Linked DNA regions of Homo sapiens: all the other regions are reported to be linked to region 5. Evidence: microRNA targets listed by miRTarBase, many of them from high-throughput screens and not tested one by one. Region 5 holds a microRNA gene; each other region holds the end of a gene's coding sequence.
Evidence for each region. The annotated mature microRNA hsa-miR-4663 reads AGCUGAGCUCCAUGGACGUGCAGU and lies in region 5 at 1,228-1,251, opposite strand. An mRNA with a match to its seed (bases 2 to 7 or 8) in the 3' UTR can be bound and repressed. Matches are read on the target gene's strand: a 7mer-m8 pairs with bases 2 to 8, a 7mer-A1 pairs with bases 2 to 7 and ends in A, and an 8mer does both.

Region 1 (4,129 bases), not on the chromosome of region 5:
TTCATGTTCATGCTCAATGGCAAGCAAGAGCATGGGCTGCTGAGCCTAAGGAAGAATGGGATGAAGTTGGAGGTGTACCCTCCAACCATGGGCACTCACAAGCTGCAGATCTTTGCCAAGGGCAACTCCGACATCTACAGCTCAGTGCTGGAGTACACGCTCAAGTGCAATTATGTGGACATGGGTGTCCAGCTGCCTGCTGAGCTTCACCAGCCCGTGGGCCCCAGCTGGTTCTCGGAGCAGATGGGCATCATGAAGCCCTCCCACCCTGACCCTATCATCCACACCAGCGACGGGCGCTGCTCCATCAGCTTCAGCGTGGAGGAGGGCATTAATGTCCTGGCTTCCCTCCACGGGGATGATGGCCCCATCACTGAGGAGACACAGCGGCGCTACATCTTCCAGCTGCACCGGGAGAAGCAGACCGAGCTGAAAGTCCAGCTGCCCCATGCAGGCAAGTTTGCCCTCAAGATCTTTGTCAAGAAGAGGCAGGAACCAGGAAACTACATCTTCGTCTTTAATTACCTTGTATGCTGTGCCAACACCAAGGTGAACTGGCCCATGTTCCCTGAGAGCTTTGGCAACTGGGGACAGGACAATGAGCTGCTGGAACCTCTGTCAGGTGTGCTTCCTGCCAACCGGAATGTCCCATTCAAATTGAAGCTGCATGGTATTGCCAAAGTCCTGGTGAAGGGGCAGGACACATGGCCCCTGACCCTGAACCACGAGGGCTACTGGGAGGGAAGCTGCAGCACAGCTGGCTGCCAGGAAGTCTATGTCATGGTGCTGGAGAATGCCAACCACAATTTCTACTCCTACATCCTGAAATACAAAGTGAATGCCCAGTGAGGGCTGTGCCCCGGTCTTACCCTCCCAAAGGGCCAAGGCCAGACCTCCCCAGGGAGGGCTCGAAGGAAGTGCAGGGAGCCCTGGACACCACTGAGTCTGCATGAAATCCCTTCTAGGCCTCTGCCTCAGTGTCCCACCTCTGCCACAGGAGCTGTGATCTTTGTGTTCTGAAGGCTTCACTCAGGTGTGGCTGTGACTGAGGGGGCAGAGGCAGTGGCTCTTTAGAAGGAAAAGGTGCTATGTAAATCTAAGGTATTGTAAACTGTACACCTGCATCCAGATGCCCCTTCTCGTATTAGTGCTGCTGCTGTTGTTGTTGCTGTAGGGTTGATGAGGGAAAGCAGGGATATTGCCCAGGTTGACAGCTTTTCACATGATGCTTAGAGAATTCTCTTCCATGCCCAAGGGGACATGATTTGCAAGGCTGGGTTGTCCTTGAATCACAGAGCCCCTTTCAAGCAATATCACCGTGCCTCTCGACAGCTCCGAGCCCCCAGGGAATCTTGGACTATCTTCTCCTCCCAGACCTGATCATCTTCTGCATCCTGCTGCCTCTTCATTAGCTACTTCTTGTTCTTCAAGAGCCCAAGAAAAAGGGTGTGGTGAGGAAGCCAGCTGACCCACAACTGGCTGGAAGCTGATCGTCTCCAACATCCCTAAGTATAGTCAGGAATGTGACAACCAGAAAGTTGTGAGGAGACTGCAAAGCAAAGAGCAGCCCATGCCCGCTGTGGCTGTGCAGGTGGGAGGGACACTGTCGGCAGAGCTGCAGCCTTGGTCTGAGGGTGTAAGACCTCCAGCTCTGCTCTGAGAGGAGTACACAGGGCAGGTAGTTCAGTCTAAGGCCTGGAGTGCCCTCCAGGCCCTCACAGAGCCTGGGCCTCAGGCCCCTGCCCCACCTCCACAGAGAGCCTCCAGAGGCTGGCCAGGCCCTTGGGGAGTCTTGTGGATAGCCCTGAATAAGGACCTGGGCGCAGATCAGGTGAGTAGTGCAGTGCGGCAATGCCGAGGAGACTCACACTTTAACAGGGCTCTGCCTGCCCCCAGTGTCTCTACCAGCAAAGCCAGGGCTGGGAAGAATTCCAGCTGCACGAGAGCAGCTTTTGTGCCTGTCTCGGAGAAAACATCCTATCCCGTCTCCTTTCCTCCCTTCTCTGAGAAGACAGCCCCCTCCAGTCTCACCTTGCATGGGGACAGCTCAGGGCTCCTTGCTTGCTCAGGCACAGACTGAGAGGCCTCAGCTGCCCAGCTGGCCCTCAGCAGCGCCTCAGGCTGCCGTTGCCATGGCAACGGAGGAAAGGCTGACTTCAGCGAGGGCAGATAAGAGGGAAAGGCGAGAGAGGCCCCACATGGCCACTGCAGAACCATCCTGGCACACAGACATGCTCCCTGCTGAACTCCCGGCTTCTCCAGCTCCGTGGCCCCTGGCTGTCTCAGTGCCCCCCAACCCCTGAGAGCCAGCACTGCCTGGCACCTCTCCCCACAGCCCCTCCACAGGCCTCCAGGCTCAACCACAGCCAGGGCCAGCTGGGACCCTCATAGCTTCCTCCGTGGCACTCACCCTCACATCCCTGTATCCAACAAATGCTCACAGAAGTACCAGATGCTTGGGCTACAGAGGTGAACCAAGGGGGCCCGGCCCCTGCCATCCAGAGTACAGGGTGAGGAAACTGCCAGGCAGCAGCAGCCTTCCCTGCCCAGGCCTGACTGAAGATCCAGGCTCCAGACACTTCTGTTCATTATCCCCCGGGATCCCTCCCCTAAAAGTCCCCACTGCCACCCAGCACGGTGGCCTAGCCCAGAACCAGCTCACAAGGGTGCCCATCATCCAACAGGCCGGCGGCCTCGAGCAAAAGGGGTGTCTCCCCTGGGGGGCTGAACTGTCCTGGGCAGGTCCTGCGCCCTCCGCAGTCTCTGCCACCGAGGCCACCCAGCCAGCCTCGTGTCACTCACACCTGAAAAATGCACAAAGGCCCCGGAGGCATAACAGCTATGCACCACCACAGGGAAACAAAGGGAGTTTTACACCCTGAAAACAGCCGTCTTGCACACTTCTGATTTTATGGGCTTAAAGAAATGTGTTTGTTTCATCAAAACAATAAGTGCCTTCGATGACGCATGTCACTCACTGGACCCCGCGCTGGCTGCCTCGCTTAGTCCTGCTGGAGACCCCCATACCTTTTCGATATGCAATATAATTAATCAATACATCCTGGAGCATTGCAGAGAATGCCACCCAGCAAAATAGGAGCTGTCCCCAGCACCAGAGAGGGAGGCCCCGCCCCTCAAAGCACCGCAGGGCATCAGCAAGCCCCTCCCTCTCGTTTAACTAGGCACCCCCTTTGTAAAGACAGCTGTAGGCGCAGTCAGAAAATCACCTGCATTTCTTTCCACTGAAGTAAAAATACATGAAATGAAATCTAATCTTCATGAATTTTTACACGCATGCTGCTCAGGGTAGACATTCGGAGTTGCATTTTGAAGGCTTTTCTTTAAATCCCCATCTTTGTTTCCCGGGCGACGAGTCCCAGTCGCCGGCGGAATGGCACGGGCGCCCCCAGGTGTCCGAAGTGCGGAGCTGCCGGCGCTGCACACCGCGAGGCTGATCTATCACCGGGCTTTTTCGCAGAACTTGAAAATGCTGTGGAAATGTTTATGTTAAAATCACTAGGTGCTTTCTCGTGGCTTCTCAGCGCTACCTTATGTGTACACGGAGGACATCTTTGTCACGCACAAGCTGTGAGGGCATCCTGGGGGACAACCTGGTGTGTTGAAAAGACAAGGGATGTGATGGGACTGTTTTGCCTGGAAATAACTTCTTGAAACAGAAGCACTTGACATAGGACTGGATGGAACAGCTGTGACTACACTCATTACTATACCATTGAAGGATTGGAACCGATCAAACTCAGAAAGTATCTGCTTGCAATTCTCAGGATGGCAGCCCCCAGGCCACAGGGCAGAAGGGAACCGAGGGTGGAGGAGTGGTGGGCAGAGGCACTACAACCACAACTTCAGTACACTTCTTTCCAGCTTGTTTCAGAAGTGCCATAGCTCAGCTGGACTCCATTTTCAATCTGATTATGATCATTGTGAGTTCCCCATATGTTACATTGTCCTACCAGGACAGCCTCCTCACTGCCTGCTAAGATTAAAAGTAAATAAATAGACTAACTGAAGCATGAAGGATTTCGGCTAGACATAAAGAACTATTTCCTGTTGTTAAGCAGGAGGGACAAGTTGCCAAGAAAGTTTGTGAAATCCTCTTCTCAAAGGACTT
Region 2 (4,129 bases), not on the chromosome of region 5:
CAGTTCATCTTGCTCGCCTTTCCCCCGGCCACAGCCTGTGGTGAGCAGAGGGCAGAGCGCCAGCCTTGTCCTGGGACTGGTGACAGACAGCCTGCTGTCTTCCTGTCTCTGAGCTGGCCCCAGGAAGGGCCCACAGGCTGCAGGAAGAGCACTGTGTGATTTACATAGATGCCTTTGTGTGGGGGCCTGACAGCTGCTGGAGTCACGGTCCTCACCCGGGTCAGGGTGGGGCTGAGAGGGCCTCCGGGTGTTTGGGTAGTCAGGGGCTGGGGTGACAGCAGCTAGTGGGGGGCGGGTATATGAGACAGATAAACATCCACACTCACATGCCAGGTGTGGCTTTGAGCCTCAGCCCAGCCCACTCTCCTTGGCTGTCTGGCTGGCTTTATTGAAAGTTCGCCAAATGGAAAGGGTCTTTTTTTTTTTCTACCATGCCGGCTCACTCTCCAGAGCATCCGTGCCGGCAGTTGGCCAAACCCTGAGGTTGGGAGCACAGTCCTCCAGACCACCACATCTTCTGGGACGCCTGACCTCTGCAGCAGAGGTCACCAAACTGTCCAGTCCGAGGGAACAGTCCCCACAAGACTGCCCCAACTTCAGCCACCAGCCGCAAGTTCAGAGTCCCCAGGGCCACCTTCACTTCAGACCAGCTGGCTGCAAATTTGGGGGTGCTTACAACCACCCTCAGCTTCAGTAATTTTCTAGGGTGACTCACAGAACTCAGGAAAGCACTAACCTTATGATTACAGTTTTATGATCATGAAAAGATACAAATTAAAACCAGCCAAAGGAAGAGAGGCTTAGGGCAGAATCTGGGAGGGGTCCAGTTGCAAGCTTCCAGGGAGGTGTCCTCTCTCTTTGGGGTTCTGGACAGCATTGCCTCCTCTGGGCCGCAATGTGTGAGGATACGCACAGGGTGTTGTCCACCAGGAAAGTCTACCTGAGACTTTGGTGCCCAGAGACTTTACTGAGGCTTGATCAGATGCTGCCTGTGTGACCGACCTTTAGTCTCCAAAGCCCCCCAGCAAACAAAGACACTCCTGTCAGACAGGACATTCCAGGACCCAGAGGTCACCTCCCACTAGCCACGGGCAGAGACTGGACCTCTCTTTGGTGAGGTTAATTCTAAACTACGAATAGGGCACGTTACAAAGTCAGTGCCCAAAGACACAGAGAGGTGTGGCTGTCAGAAGCTCCAGTCCTGGATTTGCCACCTTTGAGGTTAGCAAGTTACTTAATCCCTGTGGACGCCTACCAGCCAGAGGCCAGCAGGAACAGCCCAGTAGCCAAACAAATTTGAGTTAACTGGTACCCATTGCACTAAGAAGACTGTATACTAGGAGGCAGTGCAGTCTCAGTAAGTGTGTGTGTGTGTGTGTGTGTGTGTGTGTGTGGTGGGGGGGTGCTTATTGAAGGATTTGGGCGTTTGTAGGGTGACATTACGAAATGTTCAAGGAAGCAAAGTGTTGCTGTGGATTGGGTGCTGTCAGGGAGTGGGGCGAGTCTATAATTGAGGATCTTCACAATTTTTATCCAGGAGGTGGAAGAACGGGAGGGACGAAAAGCCTGGTAGAGAAACCGCAGTCTCTCACGTGAAACAGGAGAGGGCACTGTTTGGCCATTTTTATGGTTTCACAGTGCCCTCATTTTTTGTCCATGCTCAGGCATATTTATGGAGTGGCCTTGATTCTGTCCTGCTGCGTCACGGGGGCGCGGTGACCCTGCCTGACACAGGTGCTCTGTGAAGTTTGTGTGCATCAGGCGGACACCAGGGACCTGCAGACGAGTCACAGGATGCTTTGTTCTGTTCCTTTCCCAACCCTGAGTTTCATCACTGATAACAAGGAGACGGTAATTCTACCTAACACATTAGGCAAATGTGAGAATTAAGGGGAATAATGTAAAATGCCCAGCATAAAATAAAACACAACAGCTAGTCAATTCCCATATCACTGTTAAAAAAATAAGAGTCCATGATAAAGGGAAAAAGTGAAGAATCAAAATAAAGCCAAATGCAGAAGAGGCACAGGGAAGGAAGCTGAGAGAGGACATCAGATGAGGGCAGTCCCTGAGCCAAGGTCTGTCCCGAAGCTCTCACTACAACCCCCACCTGGGGCCAGGTGTGTGTGTGTGTGTATGTGTACACGCACCCTTGCATGAGGGAGGTAAGAAATGTGCTAGCAGCTGGCCGTGGTGGCTCACACCAGTAATCCCAGCACTTTGGGAGGCTGAGGCAGGAGGATTGCTTGAGTTCAGGAGTTCAAGACCAGCCTGGGCAACATGGTGAGACCTCATCTCTACAAAAAACCATTTTTTTAATTTAGCCAAGTATGGTGTTACATGCCTGTAGTCCCAGCTACTTGGGAGGCTGAAGTGGAAGGATCACTTGAGCCCAGGAAGTTGAGGATGCAGTGAGCCAGATTGCACCATTGAACTTGGCCTGGGTGACAGAGTGTGATGAGATTCTGTCTCAAAAAAAAAAAAAAAGAAAGAAAAAGAAAAAGAAATGTGCCAGCAATAAACAAAAAGGTTTATATACCATAATCAAATGGAAACTGCCCCAGGAATGCAAAGTTGGTTTAATATCCAAAAACCAATTAATGCAATAGAGTACATTAATAAAATACACGACAAAACCACATGATCATGCCCATAGACACAGAAAAATCACTTGACAAAACCTAACACCGTTTCATCATAAAACACTCAATAAACTAGAAATAAAAGAGAACTTTCTCAACCTGATAAGGATGTCCAAGAAAAACCCACAGCTAAAATCACACTAAATGGTGAGAGACTTATGCTTTCTTGTCAGAGTCAGGAACAAGACAAGATGTCTGCTCTTGAAACGTGTGTTCATCATTGTACTGCTCAGGGCAATTGGGAAAAATAAATAAAAGGCATTCAGATCAGACAGGAAGAAGTAAAACCATCTCTATTTGGAGATGGCATGATCTGTCTACAGAAAATTCTAAGAAATCCGCAAAAGTATTAGAGCCGGTAAACAACTTCAGCAAGATTGCGGAATACAAGATCAACATTTAAAAATCCATTGTATTTCTATAAAATAGCAATGAATAATCTAAATGAAATTAAGAAAGTAACTCCACTTATCAAAAAGAATAAAATATTTAGGAATAAATTTAAACAAGTACAAGACTTGGATACGGAAAGCAGGAGGACAAAGAGGAGAAGGACAAGGAGAGGAGGAGGTGGAGGAGCAGGAAGAAGATGAGGAGGCAATGTGTTCAGGATGTCTTGTGATTCCCGAGGCCTGAAGCCACCTGTCAGGTCAGGCATCCCCTGTCCTTCCTGTCCCTACTCCTGATCTGCTGCCTCCGGCTTGCACTTCAAATCTATCCTGCTCAGGCATGGAAGTAATTGTGGTGTGAAAGTCTGTCTGGTTGGACCAGCTGTTCTACACACTGGCCTGGCGAAGTTATTTTCAACTCATCTCAAGCCAGCCATGAACGTAAGAGAGAAGTCTGTGTGTGCAGTTCCCTCTGGGCAGTGAGACCAGCTACAGAGGCCACCCAGGCCTGGGAGAGCCCAGAACTCCAACCAGGAAGGCCTGTGGCTGAGCCCAGCTACAGATCAGGTTATGCCCGCAGGCCCTGGAGGGTCCTGCAGCCTCTGAGCAACCTCAGGTCTGTGCCCTTGGAGGCCTCGCCTCTAGAGTCCGGTGCTTCAGCGCGGTCCTCAGGGCCTGCAGGATGGCACCCTGGCTGGTCTGCACGTTGTAGTCACTGAGCCGCAGCAGGCGCTCGAAGTCTTCCTCCTTGTAGGTCATGTTGGACAGGGTGTAGGGGCAGGTGGCCCCGGTGAGATCCACTTGGCCACCCTGGAGCTCTGCGGGGCTGCGCTGGACACCTGCCCAGGGGTAGGAGGGGTGTCAGGAGCAGGACGCCGGGGCTTCTACAGCCTGGCAGCGGCGCACAGGGAGGGCTGCCCCCGCTGGAGGGGCCCCTGCTTTCCTCCCAGCTCTCTGTGTCCTTTGCCCAGGAATGTAAATGTGGGTGGCAGGGTGCTCTTTGGATGGGTACTATTTGGTGGTAGAAAATACAATTTCATATTTCATTGCCTTGTGGCGTGACACCCCTTAGGCTATTCAGGCAGCCCCACATGTCTC
Region 3 (4,129 bases), not on the chromosome of region 5:
TTTCAGGTGTACTAAACAAGTCAGATGCATTTCTCATAATGAATAAAAAATTAAAACATAAGAAACCAGCAGAGGGTATCCAGAATTTGTGTATTGCTTGCTACCTAAGATTAGGGGCTAGCAACCTGTCCATTTCTGCTCCTCTCTCTCACCCCCACAAACCTAACAAGCAATTGGGCTCAGAGCTCTTAGAGAGTATTTCCTTTTTGTAGAACTTCAGAGGACGAGGAAACAATCGTGGCTACAAAAATCAATCTCAGGGCTACAACCAGTGGCAGCAGGGTGTAAGTAATTTCTTATGTGCTTTATGTACATTAATTGTATTTTGAGTTCCTAAGATTTATCAGTCTTGAAAAAGATCTTGTTCAGGGATTGAAGTGTTTATAAGTGTTAATAGGGTAAAGTGTGAATCGTCTTGCAGTAGTAGCCATAATCTACCTTTTGAAGGCAAAATAGGTTGAAGATTGCTATAAGTTAAATTTTTTTAATAAAGTAATATTATTTAATATATACAGTTCTTTTACTGCTAGCTTTAATTGTGTAAACTAACAAAGTCATGATGTTTCGTTTTGTAATGTGTATTGATAATTATGGGATATTAAAACTAAATCTGGTTTGGTAGAAATCAGAGGTATGACAGGTATAAATTTGTTTCCAGCAAATTACTCTGAATTAGATTCATTGTCATTTCCTAAAAACAGTTTGAGTGGCTTATTGATGTTTTTTCTTTAAAAACAAAATTTTCTCTTACAGCAATTCTGGGGTCAGAAGCCATGGAGTCAGCATTATCACCAAGGATATTATTGAATACCCAAATAAAACGAACTGATACATATTTCTCCAAAACCTTCACAAGAAGTCGACTGTTTTCTTTAGTAGGCTAACTTTTTAAACATTCCACAAGAGGAAGTGCCTGCGGGTTCCTTTTTTAGAAGCTTTGTGGGTTGATTTTTTTTCTTTTCTTTTTTGTACATTTTTAATTGCAGTTTAAAAGTGAATCGTAAGAGAACCTCAGCATTGTGCACGATAAGAGAATGTGTCAGTATTTCAGGGTTCTACATTTTATCTGTAAAATGTGACTTTTTTTTTTTTTTATCACAACAGAAGTAAAATGTTGCTTTGTACCTGGTGTCTTTTATTAAGAATTTACTCCCCCCATTTCTCACAGAGAATAACAGTCGGGAGTCATTGTCACAATATAATAGAAATGTTAGCAACCAGATTCATGTAAGGACTAAGTGGTCCTCATGAATTGCATTAAGACTCTGTACTGCTCATATTACACTCCATCCTCTCTGTAGTTTGCTGGGTAGTGGAGGGGGTAAGCTAAATCATAGTTTCTGACAATAACTGGGAAGGTTTTTTCTTAAAATAACAATGGAATTGGTATAATTGGGATTGAAAACTAAAACTTGGAACTAAGATAGAGAAGATGGAGTGTATGTAGAAGGGCTGTTAAAAATGTAAAACTTGGTTGCATTATTTGTGGAGGCTCAAACTTGTGAAGGTTAATACCATAATTTTTCCATTTGTTCTGCATTTTGATTCTGAAAAGAAAGCTGGCTTTGCCCATTTCTTATTAAAAAAACTTGTTGTAAATCCAGTTGTCTAATGGGATCTATATGAAGTTAGCCATGTCTGTATGCCCTTCTCCCACAAAATACTGTATAACTAGTGTGCTTGTAGTAGTTAACTCCACCATCTTTGTAAGCTAATGAAATTGTGAGTCACCCATTTATATCTTAATTTTTAATCATGTCAGTTCTTGAATGGGTATCTCCTTAGCCTGCTGATTTCTTTTTCTTTCTAAAGAAAGTGGGTGGAGAAATTAATTTAGACGTTTGTTTGCAATAAAAAGAATTCATTTTACTCTTGTTTTGGGATTCTCGCCATCAAGGTTCAAAATCCCTTTATATAACTCCCAAGAGGAGAAATTTATTAAGTGTGTGCTTTCTGGACAGCTTATTCTTTACTCTGCATAGAACATTTAGGTTTTAAAAACTTAAATGTATACTGACAATTGATACATAATTATGAAGTAAAGTTGAATTCTTCCCTTCCCCTCCCCCCCAGACAACTTTTAACATATTTAATGAGGGGAAAAGGTACTGGCTGGGAGAAGTTAACACTGAGTTTATCATCTTTACAGAATGCTAATGCTGTCCTCAACTGATTATTTTATATACATATATATGATACATGAAACTCTGGGATCAGATGCTTTTAGAAGCCATCATGCAAGCCAGTCATTGATGTCACTGCTACACAACACTGCTAACTTGACTGTAGCTATGTAATAACATTAGATCCCCTAATTGTAATTATATTGGGTTTGCACAGAACACTTTAATCTTCCCCTCACCAATGTGAAGTGAGGAATCAGGAGTCAAACTGTAGAACTAAAATTTGACTTCAGTCTAGCGTTTCCTTGGTGTTTTTAGGTTGCTTTGGTAAGTTTAGGTTTGCTATATTTCTGATTGCTTAGAATTTTGTTTTAGCCCTTTAAAATCAGATCATAAATATGAATTCATACTTCTAAGGAATTTTCTTGCTATAAGCTGGAGTTTAGGTGATGTATAGGTTCAGTTGAGACATTTTTGGAACAGGCAAATCCTTAGTTAACATAAGATATTTAACAGTTGAAGATAGTGTCATGGATTTTTATCTTTTTTAGCAAGTAATGCTAAGAACCACTGGCCTGAGCTACTACTCTTCAGTATACATTATTAGGATTGCATAGACTTACTAGAGGAACAGTTTCAGGTTTTGATGCTAATCAGTGTTGTGTCCTAAAGTTGTCCTTTGTGCCTTTAAAAAGTTTTGGATATATCTTCTAGTTTAAAATTGCTTATTAAGGAATTCATTTTATAATTGCAGTGGGAAAGTAATGGTCAAGTAACACTAGGTAGACTATCATGCCTGTTTAGCCCAGAGAATTTGGGGGGAGAGAGAATAGATAAAAATGGCACCCAGAAAAATGTTAAAATCTTTAGTCAAGACTAGAATTAATACAATTGTCTACACTTGTATGGCAGAAATAACCTTATAAAGTGTTTAAGGAATTCAGAGAAGGGAATGTACCAAATAAGCAACAGGGAGAAAATTAGGTAAGAAGTAAGATACGAACGAGAAACCTGATTTATTGCTCATCCTTCCCTTGCCTCCCTAATGGCAAGCAAAACTCTGAACATCTGAAAAGGATGTAGTTCTGGACAAATCCTGACTACCCAGAGGAAACTCACTGTGAGATTGCTGTTGATTTGAAGGGTGCTTTCACTAAGGTTATATTTTAAAGTAGAATAACACATGCTGAGTGTAAACTGGCTTTGGATTGGTCAGCTGCAGTAGTACAAAAACAGCATAGAATTTGAGAAAACTAAAACTGCTATGAGATAGCTATGAGAAAACTAAAACTGCTATGAGATAGAAATGATGTAAAATTATGTGGAAAGTTTTCCCTCATATACTCACATACAGCCTTTGAAGGGCTCTGGCTCTGACCGGTTGATGGCCTTGAGCGAGATGAAATCATGAAATTGAGTCAAATCAATTTGACATTGAAATGACAAGAGGAAACTCTTAAATACATAAAAACAAGCTCTCATTTGCCTAGGATAGATACTGTCTTAAAAATAAAGACTGAACCTAGATGTTCTGAGCACTAGCAACAAGGTATTTTAACAAGTTTAAAGGAATTCTCTGAAAAAGTTATAAAATTATTCTAGGAAACATAACCATAATAGTGTTTTAAGGGACTTTCACCTGGGGATTTTATATTCATGAACAGAGTGTATTCTGTATTTAAAATGTCTCATTTGTGGGAATTGGATGACATGTTTTTTGATAAATTTATTCACAATATAAATTGACTTTTTATTCTAGGACCATGTGAATAATGGGTTCCATTGCACAAATACAAATATTTTAATAGCTTCTTAGGCAGTGGTGTAGACATCTTGGATATAAATAATTGTAGATCTTGTATATTTGATTTTTAAAAAACTAGAATAAACAGAGAGGCATAAACATATCTTAGAGTCCAAGTGGTAGTGTTTAGCATTGGATATAATAAATGGATGTTTTACAAAGTGTTTCCATAATTCTCTTCCTATACATAAATGTCTTGTTT
Region 4 (4,129 bases), not on the chromosome of region 5:
GCGTGTGCCACCACACTCAGATGGAATTTCACCATGTTGGCTAGGCTGGTCCTGAACTCCTGGACTGAAATGATCTGCCTGCCTCGGCCTCCCAAAGTGCTGGGATTACTGCACTTTGCAGTGAGTCACTGCACCTGGCTCGTTTCCTTATTTGTATTCATTTTTTTATCTTACCATTTGAAGGTGTTGGTAAATAACGGACACCAAAAAGGAGGCAAGCAAGTAATGAGGCCTGAAGATTACTGAAGACCCACCACCTGGAAAGTCCAACTCAGTGGTTCTTAGGTGTTCGGGAGGGGCTCACTGAAGTCTCGACCTCCAGGGCTGAAGCAGTGCTACCGCCTCAGTCTCCCGAGTGGCTGGGACTACAGGGTGCACCACCATGCCTAGCTAATTTAATTTTTTGTAGAGATGGGGTTTTGCTATGTTGGCCAGACTAGTCTCGATCTCTTGGCCTCAAGTGATCCTCCCACCTCAGTCTCTCAAAGTGCTGGTATTGCAGGTGAGAGCCACTGTGCCCCGCCTATTGTTTGGTTTTGTTGTTTGTTTCTTGCTTCCTCAAACTCATAACTTGCCATTTTGTTCAAGGGCCACCCATTCACAGAACAGTGTGCCTGGGGCTCCTCCAGCTGGCTTCACACAATTAGCTATTTACCAAAGCAGAATTCACCTGTGTGATTCTTGAATCATTAGGCTAAAGGACAGGGCCATCCAAATCTTTCCTGCTTGAACAGAAATTACACTTTCTCAGCACAAAACAGGCATTTCAGCCCTAGTCTTCAAGTAGTAATGGGAAAATCAGAGAATGTTCTTGGGATATGCAGTGGGTGCATCTGGCACAAGGGCCACGGAAGAGAAATACTTTAGGGTTCGGGTCACTAGAGTTCAGGGTTCAAAGGAATTAATGGAACGTGAACTGGGGCTGATTCTGCCATTCTTCTGACTGTAACTACAAAGTTTATACATTTCTCTCCCTGGAAAACTTTCTTTCCTATCAAAAGGGAAAGGAAAACCAACCACTATTTCTCCAAAAGCTATTCTCTTGAAGAACCAGAATCTTGCATTATCTGGATAGTTTCTAGAGAAACTATGCAGATTTTCACCCTTAGGGACTCTTTAAGCCTTAGGGTTTAAAAACCACTAGGCTGCTTCCCATTTTGCAGGGCAACTGGGACTACGGGACCCTAATTAACTGAAATCCTCACTGTACCAGATGTGGAGGGCAGCTGGTGGTAGCGGATGGCCAGATGGCAGTAAATCTCCCTCACCAAGGCTTACACCAAGGCTGTTGTTCACCGGCAGTAGAGCAGCTTAATTTCAGTTCCTTTTTATTTATCCTGCTTAGAAACGGCAAAAGAACGTCAGATGAGGAATATGGAGGAGGAGAAACAAGAAGTGGGGAGAAGGGAGATAATTTTTCTTTTCTTTTTTTTTTTTGAAACACAGTCTTACTCTGTCGCCCAGGCTGGAGTGCAGTGGTGCGATCTCAGCTCACTGCAAGCTCCGCCTCCCGGGTTCACGCCATTCTCCTGCCTCAGCCTCCTGAGTAACTGGGATTACAGGCACCCGCTACCACGCCCGGCTAATTTTTTGTATTTTTAGTAGAGATGAGGTTTCACTGTGTTAGCCAGGATGGTCTCGATCTCCTGACCTCGTGATCCACCCACCTCGGCCTCCCAAAGTGCTGAGATTATAGGTGTGTGCCACCGCTCCCAGCCAGGAGGGAGATAATTTTTCACAACAAGATAATGTCCCTTAGATTATCGAGTGCTGTCTACATTTCAGTGCAGATTCTTGGAGTTATTTCAAAGTTTCTTCTGATTTGATCTAGAAGAACAAGATCTAGAATCTGGGGCAAGATTATCCAAACCTGAAATCAAGGCCTCAGGAATACCTTATACCAAGTCTTGGAATGTGGGTTTTCGTATAAGCAGCTCTCTTCTTTACAACAGCTTTGCTGTTTTTGAGGTCAGAACAGGAGCCCTCTTTCTCAATGACGATTAAAATAAAACTTCAGGGCAAAGTTTTTGAATCTTAGCAACACATGGAAACATATGTCCTGTTGCCAAAAAAATTTTAATTGCCTAATCCAAACCAGAATATTTAGATCAACCTGTATACTATATATTATCTCTGATATACTATATCTCTAGTCCTCAGCATTATTCTTCATAAAACCAAATACCCACTTATTTGCTGAGTGGCCAGATCTAAGAGGAAGCTTTTCTGCCTTTACAGGGATGGCCTTTTGAATAATTGAGCAGACGAAGCATTGGAATATGAAATATTTGTAAATCACTGGTCAGCTCTAGTCAACCTCTTGGTGCTTTTGTTTCCTCTGGTCCCAGATGTGTCTCCTGGCTCTGGAAAGGGAGAGGCCAGTAGTAGGATCAGAAAAGGGAGCAACCAACCAGAAAACACCTAAGTTATGAGGTTTGTGCTTTTCCTGACTTAGAGAAAGTCCATATCTCAGGAGATAAACAGTTCTGGCTGCAGCTCTCTGGAGTAATCCCCTGAAATGGTGCCAGAGGGAGCATGTAGGGTAGCCAAGATTCTGACTCCTTGAACCATGGTCTAGCAAAGCCCTCAGATCCTGCATGAGAGCGCTTCCTATTTGTAAAATACCCTTGGGATCTCTCCAGTGAGGCTTGGGGGCCAGATCAGCCCCATTCCTAGCTGAGACTTGCAGAGCTCCTCTGAGAGATTGGAACTTCGCATTCCTTGAGATGGACATTCACATTCTCTACCTGCTCAGCCCTCAGCGAGCCAGCCCCACTGCCTCTGCCGCCCTTCTCACACACACAAGCCTGCTGCCGCAGTTGCCAGAGCATTCGGTCAAAGCAGGGCGCCACAACCACAGAGCAAATGAGGGAAGTGGGGCCGAGACACAAACATCCTGTCCTCATGACATCAAATGGCTCCAGCTTGAGAATCGGGGTCACTGCCCAGTGACATACACAAACGTCTCATCCCTCTAGCCACTGCCAGTAAGAGGGCATTTTCTCCTGAGTCCATGGATTGAAAAAGTGCTATCCTTTGGCTTGTGATGTCAGTGACAGGTGACAGTGACTGGAACGCGCCGCTGCTGACCGGATGAGTAGGGATATGTTGAGCAGAGGCCAGGCAGGAGTTCTGCTGAGGATGAAGTGAGTGCAGGCTCGCAGGACGTTCCTTCTCTTTCAAGGCACCAATTTAAGAGAGAGGGACTGAATGAGGAGCACAGAGCTGGAGCTCCCTCTGTTCAGTCCGCCCCATCTTTCCAGGACTCCCCCTTGCCCAGCTCTGTTTTTCTTTGCAGGACTTGGGGGTTCTCAGGCCAGGTCTTTCACCTTGTGTATGATCGCTTCCAGTTAAAGATCTCCTCCAGGTTGGAAGAGGAAGAGACTTCCCGCCTCTGCAAGGCTCCCCCACGACGACGGCCCCCAAGGAAGGAAGCTCTGTGCCTGCTCAGCCCTTTAATCCTCTCCTCCGTTCGGAAGAACTCAGTCAAGGCCCGGAAGGACTCCAAGATGACCTCATGGCTCCAGGCTGGCAAGGGCTCCTGGCGCAGGAAGCCACAGTGGCCTCCGTGGCGACTGAGCAGGAGGAAGAAGTAGGGGTTGCTGTGGAAGAGTTCAGTTGTCAGAGTGTGGTCTGGGGGTCCACACACGGGGTCGTCAGCACTGCAGATACACAGCACAGGCACGGCTGCCTCATCGACATCCCGGAGCGGGTCGTTGCGGTCCCAGTAGGTATCCCAGCTGATGGGGAAGCTTTTGGTGTGGCAGAAGAGAGCCTCCTCAAACTCTCGAAGGGAACGGCTCCTGAACAGTCTGCTGGTGTCCACAGTGTCCTCCAGGGCTGTGGCATACCTGGCAGCGAGGTGTTTAGTGGGGAAGGTGGGAAAGAGAGGGAAGAATGAGAACATCAGGTGACAGCAGATGAGACAGACAGACAGCCCGCAGGCCAGATCTGTCCACAGAGGCTTTCTTTGGCCATTTAGGGCTTCGAAAACGTTTAATTTCATGGCCATCATTTAAAACCAGATAAGGCTGGTTGTGGTGGCTCACGCCTGTAATCCAAACACTCTGGGAGGCCAACGAGGTGGGTGGATCACTTAAGTCCAGGAGTTTGAGAACAGCCTGGGCAA
Region 5 (4,129 bases):
CCCAGCACTTTGGGAGGCCAAGGCGGGCGGATCACCTGAGGTCGGGAGTTCGAGACCACTCCGTCTCTACTAAAAATACAAAATTAGCCAGGCATGGTGGTGAATGCTACTCAGGAGGCTGAGGCAGGAGAATTGCTTGATCCCAGGAGGCAGGGGTTGTGGTGAGCCGAGATCGCACCATTGCACTCCAGCCTGGGCAACAGGAGTGAAACTCTGTCTCAAATAAAGAAAAAAGAAAAAAAAAAAAGTAGCAAAGCAGAGAACTGTCCCTCTGCCCCTTTGGGGCATCTCCTTCATTTTGCTTCTCTGCAGTCCTGCCCTGTCTATTCCTCAGTCACTTTGGCAGAACACAGCCACCCCCCTACTTTTGAGCTTGCTAGGGTCAGACCCATGAGAAGAATCATTTCTGAACCTCTGGGAGAGAATCTGATTAGCCAGGTACAGCTTGGGTCAGGTACACCCCCCGACTCCCGCATCAGTTAAGGTAGTTGAGTACAAACATGATTGCTAGGTACTCACCCCTGTGAAAGAGAGAGGAGGGGGGCAAGGGTGGTGGTTAGCTCAGAAGCTGGGCAGATACAACACCAAAGCGCTAGGTGATGAAGCCACCCCGTGCGAAGGAGGGAGAAAAGGACAAGGAGGACAAATGCCTTTCCTCTCCAAACTTCTTTAGCAAAGTCTCCTGATGGACACATTTTGACTGGGAAAACAGAAATGGAGCTGCCACTCTTCGGAATGTTCTTCTGCAGGTTCGGGGGGCATTCTCTTCAGCTTCTGACCCTACAGCACAGGGCCAGGCACAGAGAAAGCGAGCGCGTGTGGATGACCGAGTCCGACTTGACTGCGTGTGCAGCCACACTGGCAGAGTTCTGGGCTCTTCTGCACATCCCTCTCTGTTTGCTCATTGTTTTGTTGTTTTGATTAATCCCCTGGAAAGCAGGGTGTAAACAGACTACCTAGATTCAAGTTCAAAAGCACTATAAAGCTGCCCTTTAAAACATCTTTTAATAAATGGTGGCCTTAGATTTGTTTTGTAGAGATTTTTTGCCCAAGGTTTTCCTAAAAGGAAGCACATTTTTTTGAAACATGGTTCTGTGCAGGGTACAGGGCCACCTCTGGCACCAGAAGTGGGGTTTGGTGGGGACAGGCTGTGCGCTTGTGGCTTGCCATGCCTCAGACTGCCTCTGCAAGGGCCTGAGCTCCAGGAAGGCAGCAATGACAGATGCCACTGCACGTCCATGGAGCTCAGCTCCACCACAGAAGGCAAACCAGAGACACCGCCCTAGAGCTTGTGATCTGGCCAGGAGGAATTATACAATAAATTAATTACAATTCCAATAAGCCATTAAAAAAAAAAAAGCACAGGGCATATGATGACATTTGAAGGGGAACCCGAGCCAGTCTGGGGATCGGGAGCATCTTGTCTGAGAGTGACCTTTGGGTGGAGATCCACAGGAAGGGGACGTTTAAGGCTGGGCTGGGGGAGTGCAGGGGAGAATGTTCAAAGTGGAGGTGACTGGATGGGCAAAGGCTTGAGCAAGGGCAAGCTTGAGGAGTCAAAGAACAAGAGAGGAAACCAGGGTGGGTACAGTACCAAGGGAAGCAAAGCGAGTTGGGCTGGAGTGGGTCAGGGCCAGGCCATGTGGGGCCTCGCAGGCCTCATGAAGGACTATGAGAATGATGTGTTCTTCGTTTTTTTGAGACAGAGTCTCACTCTGTTCCCCAGGCTGGAGTGCAGTGGCGCGATCTCGGCTCACTGCAATCTCCGCCTCCCAGGTTCAAGCAATTCTCTGCCTCAGCCTCCCGAGTAACTGGGATTACAGGTGCCTGCCACCATGCCCGGCTAATTTTTGTATTTTTTTTAAAAAATTTTGTATTTTTAGTAGAGATGGGGTTTCACCATTTTGGCCAGGTTGATCTTGAACTCCTGACCTCGTGATCCACCCACCTCGGCCTCCCAAAGTGCTGGGATTACAGACATGAGTGAGCCACTGTGCCCGGCCAGGACTGTGAGAATATCTTTCCAAGATCCCTCTGACCCAGTGTGAGGATGGTAGGGGTGTGAGAATATAAAGGACAAAAGATGGCCAGGCGCAGTGGCTCATACCTGTAATCTCAGAGCCTTGGGAGGCTGGGGCAGGCAGATCACCTGAGTTCAGGAGTTTGAGCCAGCCTGGCCAACATGGTAAAACTCCCATCTCTACCACAAATACAAAAATTAGCTGGGTGTGGTGGTGCGTGCCTGTAATCCCAACAACTACTTGGGAGGCTGAGGCACGAGAATCGCTTGAACCTGGGAGGGGGAGGTTGTAGGGAGCCGAGATCGTGCCATTGGACTATAGCCTGGGCAACAGAGCAAGACTCCACCTCAAAAAAAAAAAAAAAAAAAAGACTCTTACCCGCTCAGACATCCAGCATAGATTCCCCTTGAGGAGCAAATGTTGAAGACAGGCCTTTTGAGAGTGGAAGAGGCAAGAAATTTCCCTTAGGTCCCACCCCATGCACCTGGAGTGCAGTCACATCTGTGGTGCACATTTGCTCACCTTCTAAGTGACTCACTCACTGTTAAGGGTAGTGATGTCTGAATTGGCAGGCCTGAAGGTTTTTCTTTAGTGTAATCATTGCTCAATTACCTTCACCATCTGTGCTGGAAATGATTGTGATGACTTTGTGTGATGAAACCCAGAGGTGCCCAGTATTCCTGGGTGTCCTTTCCCACCCTTTATTACAGCAGAGGCATCAGAGTTCAAGAGGCCAGGTTCTCACTTGCGTCAACACACTGCTGCCAGGAAGGCGAGGCGGGGCGGAAGTGAGGTGTGAGTAGGATCTGTGAAGACCACTTGGGCATTCAGGATGATGCAGACAGCAAGTTGGAGAGGAAAGCCAGAAGATGAAACGCTCAAAGCAAGGGCCAAGTTGGCAAGTGGGCTAGGATACAGACCAGAAGCCGAGAGGGGTTAGAGGAAAAAAATGGGGCATTTCTAGGGAGATCACATGGACAGAAGGAAGAGGTTTAGCTACAGACAGAAACAGGCAGAGTGCTAGGACTGCCTCAGCACAGTATCACATCTGCAGGGTATTAACCTTTTGCAAAATTAAGATGCTGGCCAATTCATTCAGTAATTCTTCCAACAAATATTTAGTGAGATGCCAGGTTATTCTGCCTTGGGGACACAAATATATACAAAACAGTCACAGTCCCTGACTTTAAAAAATTTAGTGGCAAACCATCAGGCAAACATGGAATACAAAACACAGGAATAAGAGTCAGTATAGGACTGAACCAGCAGTAAGGGAGCACAGAAGTGGGAAACCTCCCACCACTGGCAGGTCAGAAAGACTTCCAGGAAGCTACATCTAAACCAGACCTGAAAAATGAATGTGAATTAGCCATTGGATGGGGGCGGGGATGGGTTGAGGTGAAGGTCACAGTCCATTTAAAGGCGAGCAGCAGTGAAGGATGGGGCTCTAGGTAGCCAGAGCTGTACCACGAAGGGCTTGGCAAGCCATGCTAGAGTCTATGTCCCATCCCGAGGGCAATCCACAGCTAGATCACAAACTCCACGATAACCAGCGTCTCCCCAGCAACCACACAATGCTTGACACATCATAGCTCAATACTTGATAGCTAACGACCGAATGCATAGAGGGACAGCAATGAGGTGCTGTGGAAGGATCTTCACAATTTTTAATTCCTAAAATTGAAATGTCTACTAATTATACAGTCTTTGGCTTCACATTAAGACTAATGTGCAACTGCTGGTCATGCTATCGAGGTCACTAAAAGAACTGTTCAACTGGACGCGGTGGCTCATGCCTGTAATCCCAGCACTTTGGGAAGCCGAGACAGGTGGATCACGAGGTCAGGAGTTTGAGACCAGACTGGCCAACATGGCGAAACCCCATCTCTACTAAAAATACATAAATTAGCTGGGCGTGGTGGTGCATGCCTGTAATCCCAGCTACTTGGGAGGCTGAGGCAGGAGAATTGCTTGAACCTGGGAGGCAGAGGTTGCAGCAGTGAGCCGCAATCGTGCCACTGCACTCCAGCCTGGGCAACAGAGTGAGACTCCATCTCAAAAAGAAAAAAAAAAAAAGAGTTGTTCAAAATATAAGAGCAGTTCTTTGC

Region 1: miRTarBase lists KY as a target of hsa-miR-4663. Seed matches in the 3' UTR shown: 7mer-A1 at 2,105-2,111 and 7mer-m8 at 3,903-3,909.
Region 2: miRTarBase lists PLA2G4D as a target of hsa-miR-4663. Seed matches in the 3' UTR shown: 7mer-m8 at 3,577-3,583.
Region 3: the mRNA of HNRNPU is a reported target of hsa-miR-4663. Seed matches in the 3' UTR shown: 7mer-A1 at 1,011-1,017.
Region 4: miRTarBase lists ABHD15 as a target of hsa-miR-4663. Seed matches in the 3' UTR shown: 7mer-A1 at 3,134-3,140, 7mer-A1 at 2,195-2,201 and 7mer-A1 at 1,683-1,689.

What each region holds. Positions count from the first base shown.
Region 1 is chr3:134,600,299-134,604,427 of GRCh38, reverse strand. KY (kyphoscoliosis peptidase) reads left to right here. Exons shown (of 11, transcript NM_178554.6): 11 at 1-4,129. The coding sequence ends at 849. It also overlaps a transcript of CEP63 not described here. Among named protein-coding and RNA genes, the nearest start is that of KY, 49 kb to the left of the region's middle. RefSeq lists a silencer at 67-361.
Region 2 is chr15:42,065,072-42,069,200 of GRCh38, forward strand. It overlaps PLA2G4D (phospholipase A2 group IVD), which reads right to left. Exons shown (of 20, transcript NM_178034.4): 20 at 1,938-3,870. The coding sequence ends at 3,644. Among named protein-coding and RNA genes, the nearest start is that of PLA2G4D, 27 kb to the right of the region's middle.
Region 3 is chr1:244,851,128-244,855,256 of GRCh38, reverse strand. HNRNPU (heterogeneous nuclear ribonucleoprotein U) reads left to right here. Exons shown (of 14, transcript NM_031844.3): 13 at 213-284; 14 at 754-4,129. The coding sequence ends at 807. It overlaps SNORA100 (small nucleolar RNA, H/ACA box 100), which reads left to right and starts at 1,040; the gene lies at 1,040-1,170.
Region 4 is chr17:29,559,236-29,563,364 of GRCh38, forward strand. ABHD15 (abhydrolase domain containing 15) reads right to left here. Exons shown (of 2, transcript NM_198147.3): 2 at 1,312-3,851. The coding sequence ends at 3,326. Among named protein-coding and RNA genes, the nearest start is that of ABHD15, 5.7 kb to the right of the region's middle.
Region 5 is chr8:123,214,604-123,218,732 of GRCh38, forward strand. It overlaps MIR4663 (microRNA 4663), which reads right to left and starts at 1,260; the gene lies at 1,185-1,260.